Homo sapiens: one gene and its partner. The protein of the gene in region 1 interacts with the protein of each later gene in a pairwise test. Each region holds a gene or a part of one and is shown in the gene's direction. Other genes may lie near its edges.

The links.
Region 2: the proteins of ANLN (region 1) and MARCHF10 interact in binary tests that used the Homo sapiens proteins (3 or more experiments, as listed by UniProt).

The regions. Positions count from the first base shown.
Region 1 is NC_000007.14:36,385,948-36,392,865, forward strand, and holds the start of ANLN (anillin), read left to right. Parts: upstream 1-3,914; 5' UTR 3,915-4,019; coding exon of another isoform or gene 4,020-4,079; coding exon 4,080-4,097; coding exon of another isoform or gene 4,098-4,127; exon of another isoform or gene 4,128-4,410; intron 4,411-6,918. UniProt on the Homo sapiens protein: Required for cytokinesis. Essential for the structural integrity of the cleavage furrow and for completion of cleavage furrow ingression. Plays a role in bleb assembly during metaphase and anaphase of mitosis.
Region 2 is NC_000017.11:62,798,289-62,805,315, reverse strand, and holds part of MARCHF10 (probable E3 ubiquitin-protein ligase MARCHF10), read left to right. Parts: intron 1-268; exon of another isoform or gene 269-416; intron 417-3,563; 5' UTR 3,564-3,580; coding exon 3,581-3,670; intron 3,671-7,027. UniProt on the Homo sapiens protein: E3 ubiquitin-protein ligase. E3 ubiquitin ligases accept ubiquitin from an E2 ubiquitin-conjugating enzyme in the form of a thioester and then directly transfer the ubiquitin to targeted substrates.

The DNA.
Region 1 (6,918 bases):
AATTCGAGACTAGCCTGGCCAACATGGGGAAACCCCAACTCTACTAAAAACACAAAAATTAGCCAGATTTGGTGGCATATGCCTGTTGTCCCAGCTACTTGGGAGGCTGAGGCAGGAGAATCGCTTGAACCCGGGAGGCAGAGGTTGTAGTCAGCCGAGATCAGGCCACTGCACTCCAGCCTTGGCGAAAGAGCGAGACCCTGTCTCGGGAAAAAAAAAAAGAAAAGTTGATATATGATAAAAGTGGCATTACAGGTCAATGAGAGAAAGGATGGACAATTTAATAACTGCTGCTAAGACAACTGGTTATCCATACAAAAAACAAGATCAATCCAGATAGTTTAAAGACAAAAGCATGAAAAGCCATACTTTAAAATATTTAGAAGAAAGTACAGCAGAACATCTTTATTATCTCAGGGTATGGAAGGATTTCTTAAGGCATAAAAAACACAAATCCTAAAGGAAAATATATATGGTATATGTGTATGTGTATGTGTGTATGTGTGTGTGTGTGTGTGTGTGTGTATCATTAGTTATATTAAACATTTCTGTACATCTGAAACATCATAAAGTAAAAAGACAAGCCACAAACCAAAAAATTGGCAAGCCGAAAAACCAACCAAGTTTATTTTCCCAGAAAATAGTAAACAACCAACAAAAACCCTATAAATCCATAAGAAAAAGGCAAATAATTGCACAGAAAAATGGGCAAGGATATAAAGTTGAAAATCACAGAAAAAGAAAATTGAAAGTCCAATAAATAAAAAATCATGTTCACCTTCACTAGTGATAAGAGAAAGGCACTCAAACAAGAATGGCAAAATTTAAAATGTATCCACATATTGGGGAGGAACTAGAGCAGCAGCCAGGGGCATATACTACTGACTGGAGTATCATTTGTTATGACCATTTTGAAGAGCAGTTTATTTTTAATATCTGGTAATAATATTCCTAGGTATATTGCTCTAGAGAAAGTTTTGCATGTGCATATAAAGGATAGTCATGGCATCATGGGGTCTTTGGAATGAAAAACTGGAAATAAGCTAAATGTCCATTAACAGGATAATGGGTACATAAATTACAAGTATATTTGTATAATAAAATTTAGCAGTGAACATGAATGAAATGCAGCTACAGTTATTAGTGAGGATAAATCCCATAAAGATATTATTGGGCCAGAAAAAGTTGCAGAAAGACTTACATTCTGCAAATAAAATTTATATATAAAACACTAGATATTGTTATGGATATATATGTAGATGTGATAAAAGTATACATATTTCTATGGGAATGATAAACATCAAATCAAGATAGTTTTACCCTGGAAGAGTGGGAAGATGAATGAGAATAGGAAGGGACACACAGGAGACTTCAATTACATGTGGGATGTTTTGTATTTTTTTAAGCTAGGTGGCTGGTATATGGTTATGTTTTATTATTCACATTTTTATTGTATTTCATAACATAATTTTTTTGTTTTCAAATTTTTTTATTTGTTATATAACACAATTTTTAAAAAGATAAAAGTCATTCTAGCCTAGAAACTGAAGAATGAACTACCGGGGGTTAAGAATGAAAGGAGGTATAGTAGGAGACAATTGTAATACCCTAGGAGAGTAGACTTGAATATCTACCGTAGTTTCTGGCACATAGTAGGTGTTTCAGTCTTAGGAGTTATTTAATTGTGATGGTTGCCATTATCACTATCATCATCATTATCAAGGTAGAAACCAAAGACATAGTGGGATGGTGAGGGAAGATACACTAAATGTTGTGAGTAGCTATCTTATGCTAGGTGCTTTACCTCTTTTAGTCTTAACTAGAATCTAGTTGAGGTAGATACAAAGAAACTAAGGCTCATAGAAGTGATAGCCAGAAGGCACAACGGCTACATAAATTTCTAATGACTCATTTTCCAACGTTGTTTAAAACACGCATACACACACAGACACGCCCCAAATACATACACACCTTTCTTGTCACACTTGAAAAAAATGGAAGTATCTTTTTCCTTTGTTCATAAGTAACACATTCTGGGTTAAATATTAATAATTCCATATACTACACACTCGGACAGTGTCTTATTACTTATTATGAAATATTTTTGGATTATGTCTCTCCATTTTTCATCTGCCCCTCCTAACAACTCTGAGGAAATCAGGGCAGATGATTATTCCTGTTACACAGATAAGTAAACTAAAATACAAACAGGCTAAATCAGAAGTTCTTGTCCTGGTGTCCATGAACTTCACAAAATCCTGTTAAATAGTTTATGATTAAATGGTCATTTTTCTAGGTAGAGGGTCAGTTTTAACATATTTCCAAAGGAGTCCATGACTCCCCACAAAGGTTAAAAAAAAAAAAAACCCATGGGTTAACCGATTTGGCTAACTGGGTGGAGCCCTGACCCCAAGCAATATTTCCCTTACCTCTTGCCGTGATTTCAGTCACGTACAATTTATCATACAAAAATTCAAATTAAAAATATTAGTAAATTCTTTTTGTAATGTTGATTGACTGCTAAGATGGACATATTATTAAACATATTGAAACCACTCAGTTGGGAGGAATAGTTCTGTTTTGTTCAGCTCATGGACAGTCACTCTTAACTTTTCAGATGAACAAATCAAGAACTGTCATCTTTACCTGCACAGACTTGTTATAGAAGAAATGAATCTGATACAGAAATTATGTAACCTATCTTACAATTTGGAGTACTCTACAAAGAATAAGCAGGAGACACAGCCTTAGCTAGTGTGGAAAACGGGTCATGAGCTGAGAACAGGGTTTTCATTTCTTTGGACCAGTTTCTTTAACGTTTTCGGGTGTCCCTTCTCTCGGCAGTAAAAGGAAGGATTGAACTAGATAGAGGGCTTGTCAGAATTCCTCCCGCTCTAACACTGTACACAGTTGGATGGAATTTAAAATAAAAAATTGTGCATGAACGCTTCACACAGTCTGTTAATTTTAGCTTTATTTCATTGGCTTAGAGTGTCGGGGACCCACCGGAACTGGCTTTTCTGAGGGCCAGGCCTGCAGTCCCCCTTTTGGGGACTAGGAGTTGGGTGTGACCTAGGAAACAAAGCTACTGAAGGCCAACGGGCTAGCAGCACCTGAAACACAAGGGCTCTTTGTCTGGCTCTGTAGCCCAGGCTGGAATGCAGTGGTGTGATCTCTGCTCACTGCAACCTCCACCTCCCGGGTCCCAGTTCAAGCAATTCTCCTGCCTCAGCCTCCCGAGTAGCTGGGATTAGAGGCACGCGCCACCATGCCTATCTAATTTTTTTGTATTTTTAGTAGAGACGGGGTTTCACCATGTTGGCAAGGCTGGTCTTGAACTCCTGACCTCGTGATCTGCCCGCCTCGGCCTCCCACAGTGCTGGGATTATGTCCTGCCAACACAAGGGCTCTTAATCCTTTTTTTTTCTTTTTTGAGGCAGGGTCTCACTCTGCCGCCCAGGCTGGAGTGCAGTAGTGAGATCGCAGCTCACTGCAGCCATGACCTCCTGGGCTCAAGCGATCCTCCAGCCTCAGCCTCCCCAAATGCTGGGATTATAAGCATGCGCCACTACTCCCGGCCTTAATACTTTATTTAGGAATGAAGGAAGGCGGGAACACCCAAACGCGGTTGGTGTGAAGCAATCGCCTTAAAGCTGAGGGGAATGTGTGGTTGTTGGGGGTGGAGCCAGGAACCCGACGCCGTTGGAGAGCAGGAAGCGCCCCGCTGCCCGCCTCCACCCCGCGGCGAGGGCTGGGAGGGGGCCGGGAAGGAGGCGGGGCCGCCCCTGGGAACCACCCGGCCCGGCGCGGCCACGTGACCGAGCGCAGGGGCGGGGAGAGGGCGCCCCGGCTCCGCCCAGCGCGCATGCTCGCGGCTCGGCGCTGAAATTCAAATTTGAACGGCTGCAGAGGCCGAGTCCGTCACTGGAAGCCGAGAGGAGAGGACAGCTGGTTGTGGGAGAGTTCCCCCGCCTCAGACTCCTGGTTTTTTCCAGGAGACACACTGAGCTGAGACTCACTTTTCTCTTCCTGAATTTGAACCACCGTTTCCATCGTCTCGTAGTCCGACGCCTGGGGCGATGGATCCGTTTACGGAGGTGAGTGAGTTTGCGGGTGCAGCCAGCCATGACCCACCGCTCTAGGCCCCCACCCACCTTCCTCTGTCAACCTCTGGGCGAACCCCCACCGGGCGGAGGGCGCGTGTGTGCGCGCGTGCGCAGTGTGTGCGGGCCGGGGTCGCCGCGGCTGCGGCCTGCTGTGGTTGGTGGGTTCCTCTGAGATTTTGTTGTTTCGGTCCTACAGATAAAACTCAGGGAGGAAGGCTTTGAGTCTGTCCTAAAAGGCTGTTGCGAGAGGTCTTTCAGCCCCCGTTTTTACCATGTCCCTCTGCAGTCCTGGCGCAGCAAGAGTGAGGCGCAGGCCTGCGGAACGGGTCCTGCTGGAAGCAGCTGGAATGCCCTGCAGGGCGGGGTCCGGGGCCGGTGACTCAGTGCGGCTGCCGCCGGGAAAGGCAGTAGGATGTGTGATTTGCGGAGTTCACGCAGCCCGCAGGGGAGATGCTAATGAAATGACAGCAAAACGTTAAAATAAGCAGGTGCTAGAAACCACTGCATTCGTTCATAAAAAGCCAGTAGTTCCTTGAGATCCCATTGTTCAGCTAACTAACGAAGAAGTTCATACCCGGGACTGACCATTTTAATTGAAACAATGCAAGTGTACCGAGCAAAACTATCAGCTCACGATTTTAGAGCAAAGAAATAAACTTTTCGGTGTTTCTGGGGCATATCATTACAGTACTTATTTCATCTTTTGTTCCTTTGAGATTGCATATGGGTTACATGGTTATTGTGTCGATTTCTCTAGTTTTAGCTTTTGTGGAGAATGTGCGTTGTCACATTCAGGAGTGTTTTGTTGCCAGTTGTCCACTCTCTTTTATTCCAGGACAGTTCCTCTTTCTTTAGGCTGTTGTGCAAATTTCAAACTGTTAGTTTTTGAGTGTTGCAAAGTGGACCTAAAACTGTTTACACTGATTCAAAAACTTAAATGCTGTGAAGAGTGGTAATTCTTTCGGGGAGATGTAATTATAATTCTATAAGTTATGTATGAGATATTAATTACAGATTTCAGCAATTAGAGTTTACTTATATTCAAGCATGACATAATCTATTTTTCTGTTTCAAATTCTTAATCATCTTGGGACAAATACATCAATTTTTTTCACCTTCCTTAAAGGTTCTAATAGAAAAATCTAGAGCCTATTTTTGTATTAGCCTTAAAATAGGGCTGGTCATGCACCAAGTATCTTTCACTTACACTGAGGTCGAAAAGCGTGTATTTATTTTATCTAAACTAGAATACGATTCCTTAAAACATTAGCCCTATGTGTCTTCCTAAGTAACAGACAGGAACAAAGCATTTTTAAGTTGGCTGAAAATTGCACTTCATTTTACTTAAAAATGTCATTCTGAAGGTAGTACAAATCTCAACTGAAAGAAACTTTACCTGTTTAGATCGTTTTAGGATGTGCTCAGAAATATGTATGGTTTATATTATGAAAAGTTAGATCACTTGCAGTTGGAAAAACAGCTTAGACGTCTTTTCCTTAATAGGTAATGAATGAACTACTTGAATTGATTCCAACTCTTGGGTGCTTAATTATAGCATTCATAACATTTGCACAGTGAAATGAGCTACTGGTACAGTTGTCTATCAACTGAAAGTCAGTATAAAATGACTCTCTCAACCAGGGTTTCCTCTCAGAACCATGGTACACAGGAAAATTGAGAGACTATTTTCTCAATTCTCCCAAGGATAATTCAATGCCACCCTACAAACATAGGAAATAAGTCTATCATATTAACGCCAGCGTATTAGGGCTTAATTATTTTGGTAACTCCAGTTGAGAAAGGTTACAATCATGGTAAACTCTCTTTTCCTCAAACAAGACTGTTCTGCATTGGTCTTCCTCCCTGTGGTCGCTGATACTGTTCTGGCACTCTTTTTTTTTTTAAGACGGAGTCTCGCAGTGTCGCCCAGGTGACAAAACCATAAACTCACTACTCATAACGTCAAGAGTTTGAAGCTCTACTCACAGGTGATAGTCATCCCAGTACAAGAATACTACAAAGAAACCCAGAGTGAAGTGTACCAATCCAGAACTTTCTTTATAAAAACCTTAAAAGAGAAAAAGCTATAATTAAAATACTTCACAGAAGCATATTTTATTGTAGACGCTTTAGATCCTTTTATGTCTGCAGGCTGCATATAAATAAGTATGCAAATAAACATGCCACTACCATTTTTAGTGGAATTTCTCTTATTTTCCAGAATTAAATGAAGTTCCCTGGGGAAGAGCTGCTAGAGCATATTGAAAATAATAAGAAGTTAATTTATATTGAGTCTACTGTGTTAAAGAAGGCAAGGAAATTAGTAAAATCTCCTAGAAAAATTTGTCAGAGATGACTTTGGGGTGTATGTGGCAAAAGTTGTTCAGGGACTATAAGCTTCAGTTACCTGAGATTCATACATGTGGGCTATCCTACTTCTTGAATATGTTATTGCAGTGGTTTTTTTTTTTTTTTAATGCCTACACTGTTTGAGAAAGGTGTGATATTTCAAGGAATATACCTTGTATTTAAAAGAGTTTTAAAATTCCTGATATACTATTATAAGGAACGGCTACTTACATTTATTGAGCTATTGAGTTTATATATTTAAGATATATAATTTCTTTTAATTTAATAACCTTTGGTGTTTATAGCTTTACTTCACAGATTAGGGATCTTTTTTTGTGTATCTATTTAATTTTTTTTTAATCTGGGAATTTTTGAATCTAATGTAAGCAATAGAACATTCATATACGTTTGAATGACAAAATCACATTCTTTTGTTGTGACCTACTGCTCATGGTAACTGAAG
Region 2 (7,027 bases), on another chromosome or scaffold:
TTTTAACACCATCGTTTTCTGAAAAGAGTGCAAAGGTAACTTCATTCTATGCAGGTACACATTCAGATGAAAAGCTAAAAGTGATCTTTTAAAACATAGTCCCATAAGTGATTATTAAAATGCTTAGAGACAAAATGTATGTTTTGTGTGTAGACTGGAAATACACATTGGATTGTAGTTTCAGATTCTGACTGTCAAAAGACCAACTTTCCATACTCCAGAGAAAATAGCCCCCAAGAGACGAGCACAAGTTTTCCCCATTGTTCAGGGCCAGATGATAAACCATGTGAGATTTCATAACTACCAGACCAGACGCTGGGTCACCATGAGTCCGGGGCGGCCTGACTCTGCCAATATCTGCACAACTGAATAAACAGGAGGAGCGAGGGAATGCCGCAGAACGTATACACCTGAAGGTAGAGATGTCGCCTGTCCCATCCTGATGTTTCCCCAGAGCCTAGCAGCCCTTGTCACACACAGCAGTTGTAAAAAATATGTGTGTGTGTGTGTGTGTAGAAATAAATGAAAGAGCTTCAGTAGACAACAAACAGGAATAGTGTGGGGGCTTTGATGACCCCATAGATGAGGGGTCGTTATTAACAGTGCCATTTTATCCCTTTGTGAGCTTAGATATCTTGGCCATAAATTTGGGCCATGCCAGTCAAAGCCAAACTTCTTGAAAGCATGATCTCCACGCCTTTGCCTCCCATTTACGCAACCTTCTGCAGCCCTCCCAGCCCCGTCACTCCAATGAATGCTCTCACCAAGGTTATTAATAGCCTCCTTTTTGAAACCCTCTCTTCTGGGCATCTCTGAAACGGCACCCACCTGGTTTCTTCCTGCCTCTCTGGCTTTTTCTTTTTTTTCCGCAGAGTTTCTCTTCAGCGGCTTGTTCTCTAAATATTCGTGTTCTTCACGAGGTTTTGTCCCTGTGTCCTCTTTCTCTTTTCGTTCCCATTCTTCCTTCAACTTCAGTTATCACAGAATGCCAGCAGTGCCCAAATCTGTACCTCTCCGGTCAGCTCCAGAGCCCTGCGTCTGACAGCACACTTGACATCTCCGTTTGCCGCACCGCAGACACTTGTGACGCCATGCTGTCTCCTCACAAAGCAGCTCCTCCTGTGTTTTCTGAAGCGAATGCTGGCACCAACCCACTGGCTGCTCAAGCCAGTAACCTGGGCATCCCTGAGACTTCCACCCCTGGTCCATTCATATAATCGCAAGCCCTGATGACTTTCTGTCCTGAGCATCCCTTGAATCCCTTGGTTAAGAGTGTGGGTACTGGAGCGAGTCTCCGGGTTCACATCCCGACTCTTCCCCTCACTAGCTCCGTAACTTTAGGGAAGTTACTTAATCCCTTTGGTCCTCAGTTTCCTCACCTGCGAAATAGAGATCTAGTGCTGGCCTCACTGCGTTGTTGAGAAGATTGAATGAGTTAATTGATGTAACTGCTTAGAACAAGGCCTATCCCTTCCAGAGGGTCGGTAAAGAGTAACTATGGGCCGGGCGCAGTAGCTTATGCCTGTAATCCCAGCACTTTGGGAGGCCAAGGTGGGCAGATCACCTGACGTCAGGAGCTCAAGATCAGTCTGGCCGATATGGTGAAACCTCGCCTCTACTAATAAAAAATTAGCCGGGTGTGGTGGCACGTGCCTGTAATCCCAGCTACTTGGGAGGCTGAAGCAGGAGAATAGCTGGAACCTGGGAGGCGGAGGTTGTGGTGAGCCGAGATAGCCCCACGGCACTCCAGCCTGGGCGACAGAGCAGGACTCCATCTCAAAAAAAAATAAAAAAGAGTAGCTATGATCCCCTCTCCCTCCCCACTGTCCTCCACCTCCTCCTCCTTTTTCTCTCCACTGTTGCTACCCGATGCTGGTTGCCATCTTATCACATCTAGATTACTATGAAATATTCCCAATGGTCTTCCCACTTCTTTGTTTTACTCTACCACCATCACCCCCACCCCATCCATTCTCATACTGCAACTGGAGGGATCTTTTTAAAATACAATTTTTTTTTTTTTAAATACAGACAGGGTCTTGCTCTGTTGCCCAGGTTAGAGTGCAGTGGCATGACCATGGCTCATTCCAGCCTCTAACTCCTGGGCTGAAGCGATCCTCCCACCTCAGCCTCTGAGTAGGTAGGACTATAGGCATGCATCACAATACCTGGCTAATTTTCAATTTTCTTTTAAATAGAAATGGTCTTGCTATATTGCCAAGGCTGATCTCAAACTCCTGGGCTCAAGTGATTCACCTCGGGAGGCGTGAGCCACTATACCCAGTGAGTTATGATCACACCACTACACTCCAGCCTGGATGGCGGAGCAAGATCTTGTCTCTAAGAAAAAGAATTAACAAATAAATAAAAACACGAATCTAATCATTTACTTCCCAGACTGGAAGCTTTCAGGAGTTTCCCATGACTCTTTGAATCATGACCTTTGAGGCCCCATGGGAGCTGGCCCCTGCCTCCCCTGCAGCCCTTCCGGGGCTGTTCCTTCCTCATCTCTGCTCCAGCTGCACTGCTTCCCTCCCGTCTGCCTCATCTGCACCTGCTCCTTCATGCCTGAAGCCTCTGCACCTGCTGTCCTCTCTGTCCCACTTCTCAGCTAGCTCACTCTGTCAAACCCAGTGTCATTGCCTAAGGAAAACCTTGCCTGACCCCTCCAGACCAGGTTATGCCCTCCCATAATAACGCTCTCAAAGAGCCGCATAGTTCTGCTTCAGAGGGCCTATCATAGTTAGGATTCACTTGCTCAAAGTCAGTCTCGCACCCTGGATTATAAGCAACACAGGCCAGGTGCGGTGGCTCACACCTATAATCCCAGCACTTCGGGAGGCTGAGGCGAGTGAATCACCTGAGGTCAGGAACTCGAGACCAGCCCGGCCAACACGATGAAACCCTGTCTCTACTAAAAATACAAAAATTAGCCAGGCGTGGTGGCAGGTGCCTGTAATCCCAGCTACTAGGGAGGCTGAGGCAAGAGAATCGCTTGAACCCGGGAGGCGGAGGTTGCAGTGAGCTGAGACTGGCCATTGCACTCCAGCCTGAGCAACAAATGCAAAACTCCGTCTCAGAAAAAAGAAAAAAAGAGCAAAGATGAGGGTCGTGTCTGCTTTGCTGCTTGCTATACTCCAGTGTCCAGCACAGTCCCTGGATGGAAATAACGGTGCAATCATTGTTGCATAAATGAATTTAAGTAACCAGGGGCCTGTAACTTTGGTCACTGCTTATTTAGCTAGGCTCTCAGGTTTTCCTTTTTGTCATGCTCTAGAACCGAATCAGGTGTCTGTCAATCTAACTCCCTCTGAGTAACCAGGACAGGATCACTGAAGTGCTTGATGAAGGTGGCTGCATTATTTATGCCTGGAACAGGAGGACTGTAAGGGCATCAACAGCAACACAAGAAGTCCCTTCAGCTTGAAAGGAGCATCTGTGCCTTTCAAACAAGGGAAATTAGATGAATACACAAATAAAAGCAATTAGATGAAAATAAATCCAAATACGGCATCACGACAAAGGACTCTAACACAGCACATTTGTTTATCTTTTCTGTGCAGGTCAGGGATTAGGAATCATGTTGCATGACGCAAGGGACAGGCAGAAGTTCTTCAGCGATGTTCAGTATCTGCGGGACATGCAGCATAAGGTGGACTCTGAGTATCAGGTAATTGCAGAAAGCAAGAATGGTCTTCTGCCTTCTCTTGCAGTATTTAGAGAGAATTCAGAATACAGCATCAACGTATGATAAGCAGTAAAAGTTTTCTAAAATCCAAACCCACCGATTAGGTATGTAACTAGCAAAAGCCACTTCACCTCTCTGTATCCTCGTCTGTAAAAAAAAAAAAAAAAACGGGGATAGCTGGGCACGGTGGCTCATGCCTGTAATCCCAGCACTTTGGGAGGCCGAGGCGGGCGGATCATGAGGTCAGGAGATCGAGACCATCCTGGCTAACACAGTGAAACCCTGTCTCTACAAAAAATACAAAAAATTAGCCAGGCGTGGTGGCACTGTAGTCCCAGCTACTCGGGAGGCTGAGGCAGGAGAATCGCTTGAACCCGGGAGGCAGAGGTTGCAGTAAGCCGAGATCGCGCCACTGCACTTTAGCCTGGGCAACACAGCGAGACTCCTCCGTCTCAAAAACAAACAAACAAAAACAAAAAAACGAGGATAATGGTTGTATCCACTTCTAGTATTATCATGAAAATGAAATGAAATAAACACTGTAAAAGTACTTCCCTCAGTTTTCGGCATGGAGCCCTTGTCCACCAGTGGCATTAGGGCTTAAATTTGACAAACCAACTGAGAAGGAAAGAAAACATGAAAGAGTTAACTGGGTCGCCCTACCATTTGTAAAATAACACGCCCTTCGTTGTCATCCCCACCAGAAGAAAGGTGGTTTGCACATTTTACAATGAGCTAACTGCTGGTCCCCCTAGTTACAGTGTTTACGTGCAAAACCAAAACACACAGGGAGCCTGAGGAATCCTGAGGTTGCAGTCACCCGGAGCTGGCATAGGACAAACTTGCCAGACTAGGTTGTGGGATCCTGGGAGCAGGTAAAAAGTGTCAGTCATCCCACCAGAGGTGGGACCTCAGCCCTTGCCAATCAGGAAGGCACGTCCTCAGCCTGGGCTGAGGATTGAAAAGCGCTCCTTCCCTGAGGAAAACACAGAACTGCTGTTATCAGGTTTTTCCCCTTCTTAGCAATTTCAAATATAACTAAAGCTCCCAGGTCACCAAGGAAACCAGACCTGTCTCAGTAACCTGATTTCACCTGTATAATACGGCTTAGCTTTAGGGCTGGAAACAGAGTCAGCAATTTCCTCCCACAACGTGCCAACCCACGTATAAGAAGACGAGAAAATCGAGGGCATTTCTGCAAAATAAATAAGAACATAAACATCCACACTGGTCGCCCTGGGAGTCTAACTGCTTTTCACAAAGATGCCTCTGCCACCCGGCTCCTGTTTGAAATTGTCTCCAGAACAGGCATGTAGGAAAAAATCAATCTTATAGTTTTATGGTCCTTGTTGAAGAAAATCACACAACTGTGTGGCTTTGAGCCGTTGCCGTTTTATTTTCTAATCTCCATTGGGCTCTTAACACTGCCTTTTCATTCATTCATTCAGCCAATATCTATTTGGTGCCTACTATGTGCTGAACAAAGCCTCTGTTCTCCTGGAATTCTTATTCTAAGATTAAGAGGGGGAAGGACTTACACAAGTAGAAATGTGTAAGGTAGTTTCAGTTATTGATAAATACAATGAGGAAAATAAAACAGGTTAAGGGGTTGGAGGCGGTGATCCCTTAGAAGCAGGGGAGGTCTCTTTGAGGAAGTGACACTTGACTGTTGAGGTGAATTATGGGAAAGATCCCCCCAGAGCTTCCCAATCGGAAGGAAAGAGACAGTGCAAAGGCCCTGAGGCAGGAACCAGCCCGGATGAAACCAAAGTTAGCCAGAGGGGCTGGAACACATGAACCCAGGGAAAGTACGGAAGTGTCACACTGGGTCTCACAGAACATAGCTTGGCATTTAGGTTTTATTCTTTTTTTTTTTTTTTTGAGACAGAGTTGTGCTCTTGTTGCCCAGGCTGGAGTGCAGTGGCACGATCTTGGCTCATCGCAACCTCTGCCTCCTGGGTTCAAGCGATTCTCCTGCCTCCGCGTCCCAAGTAGCTGGGATTCAGGCATGCGCCAACACACCTGGCTAATTTTGTATTTTTAGTAGAGACGGGGTTTCTCCATGTTGGTCAGGCTGGTCTCAAACTCCCGACCTCAGGTGATCTGCCCGCCTCGGCCTCCCAAAGTGCTGGGATCACATGCATAAGCCACTGTGTCTGGCCCAATTTTATTCTTATCACTGTGAGAATTATTGGATGGTTTAAGTGGGGGAATAGTATGATCTGATTTATGTTGTATTAAGGGTCACTCTGGCTGCGGTATATGGAAAGGACTAGAAGGGGCAAGAGAAGAAGCGGGAAAACTTGTAAGGAAACTATGATAGAAATTCAGGAGAGAGATTCTGGTGACTTGGCCCGGGGTGGTAGGAGTGGAGGTGGTGAGAAGTGGCCCGGCCCAGGAAATAGAAGCAGAACAGACATCTTGCTGATAGATGGAGAGGCGGAGTGAGGGAAAGAAAAGAATGAAGGATGACTCACGTCAACACATTTACTTGTCCATCAGCTCCCTCTGTTATCATCACGATTTTAAACCTTTTCACTCTTTTCAAACCTCCAACCTCCATAGTTTCAACAAAGAACTCCCTGCCGGGTTTCACACACTCACACAAAACAAAATGAAGACCCCAAGGCCGGCAGGTGAGAACCCACTCAGCCTCCTCCCATTCGCTCCAGGCTACACACCATCTAGTCCCCACATCTTGGAGGATGAAGTGACCCTCTTCCTGCTGGTACCCAGCCTGAGATCCTGATTTGAGGCCCTCTGCTCTCCAGCCCCTGCCATCCACAGGCCTCTCATTGGTAGCTTTGACATTTCCTTTCTTGTTGGCTCAGTCCACGAACGTGCTTAAGTCTCTCCCATCTTAAGAACAAAAGAGCAAAGCTTTCTGTAGACATCGTGTCCTTCTCTAGCTGCAGCGCTGGCTTCTTCCTGCCTCATCCCAGATGTCCCCAAACAGCCAGCTCCATTTCTGTCTCTGCTTCCTGCCCTCCCATGGATTCCCTGGCCTGCTTCAGCCCGACCATCACCTCCGCTCTCCTCTCCTGAAATTCTTCTGCTAACGTCAGTAACCAAATTCACCGGGCTCCTTCCCAGTCTTTATTTTCTGCAGTCTTAACTACCTTTGACGTTATTACTCCTTTCTTCTCAAACATGACTCTTTGGCTTTCTTTTTTTTTTTTTTTTTTAATGTTTCCCAGGCTGGTCTCGAACTCCTGGCCTCAGGTCATCCTCCTGTCTCAGCCTCCCAAAGTGCTGGGATTATAGGCATGAGCCTCCATATCCAGCCTCCTTTGGCTCTCTGACATCACACTCTCTTGATTTTCTTCCTGTTTCTCTCAC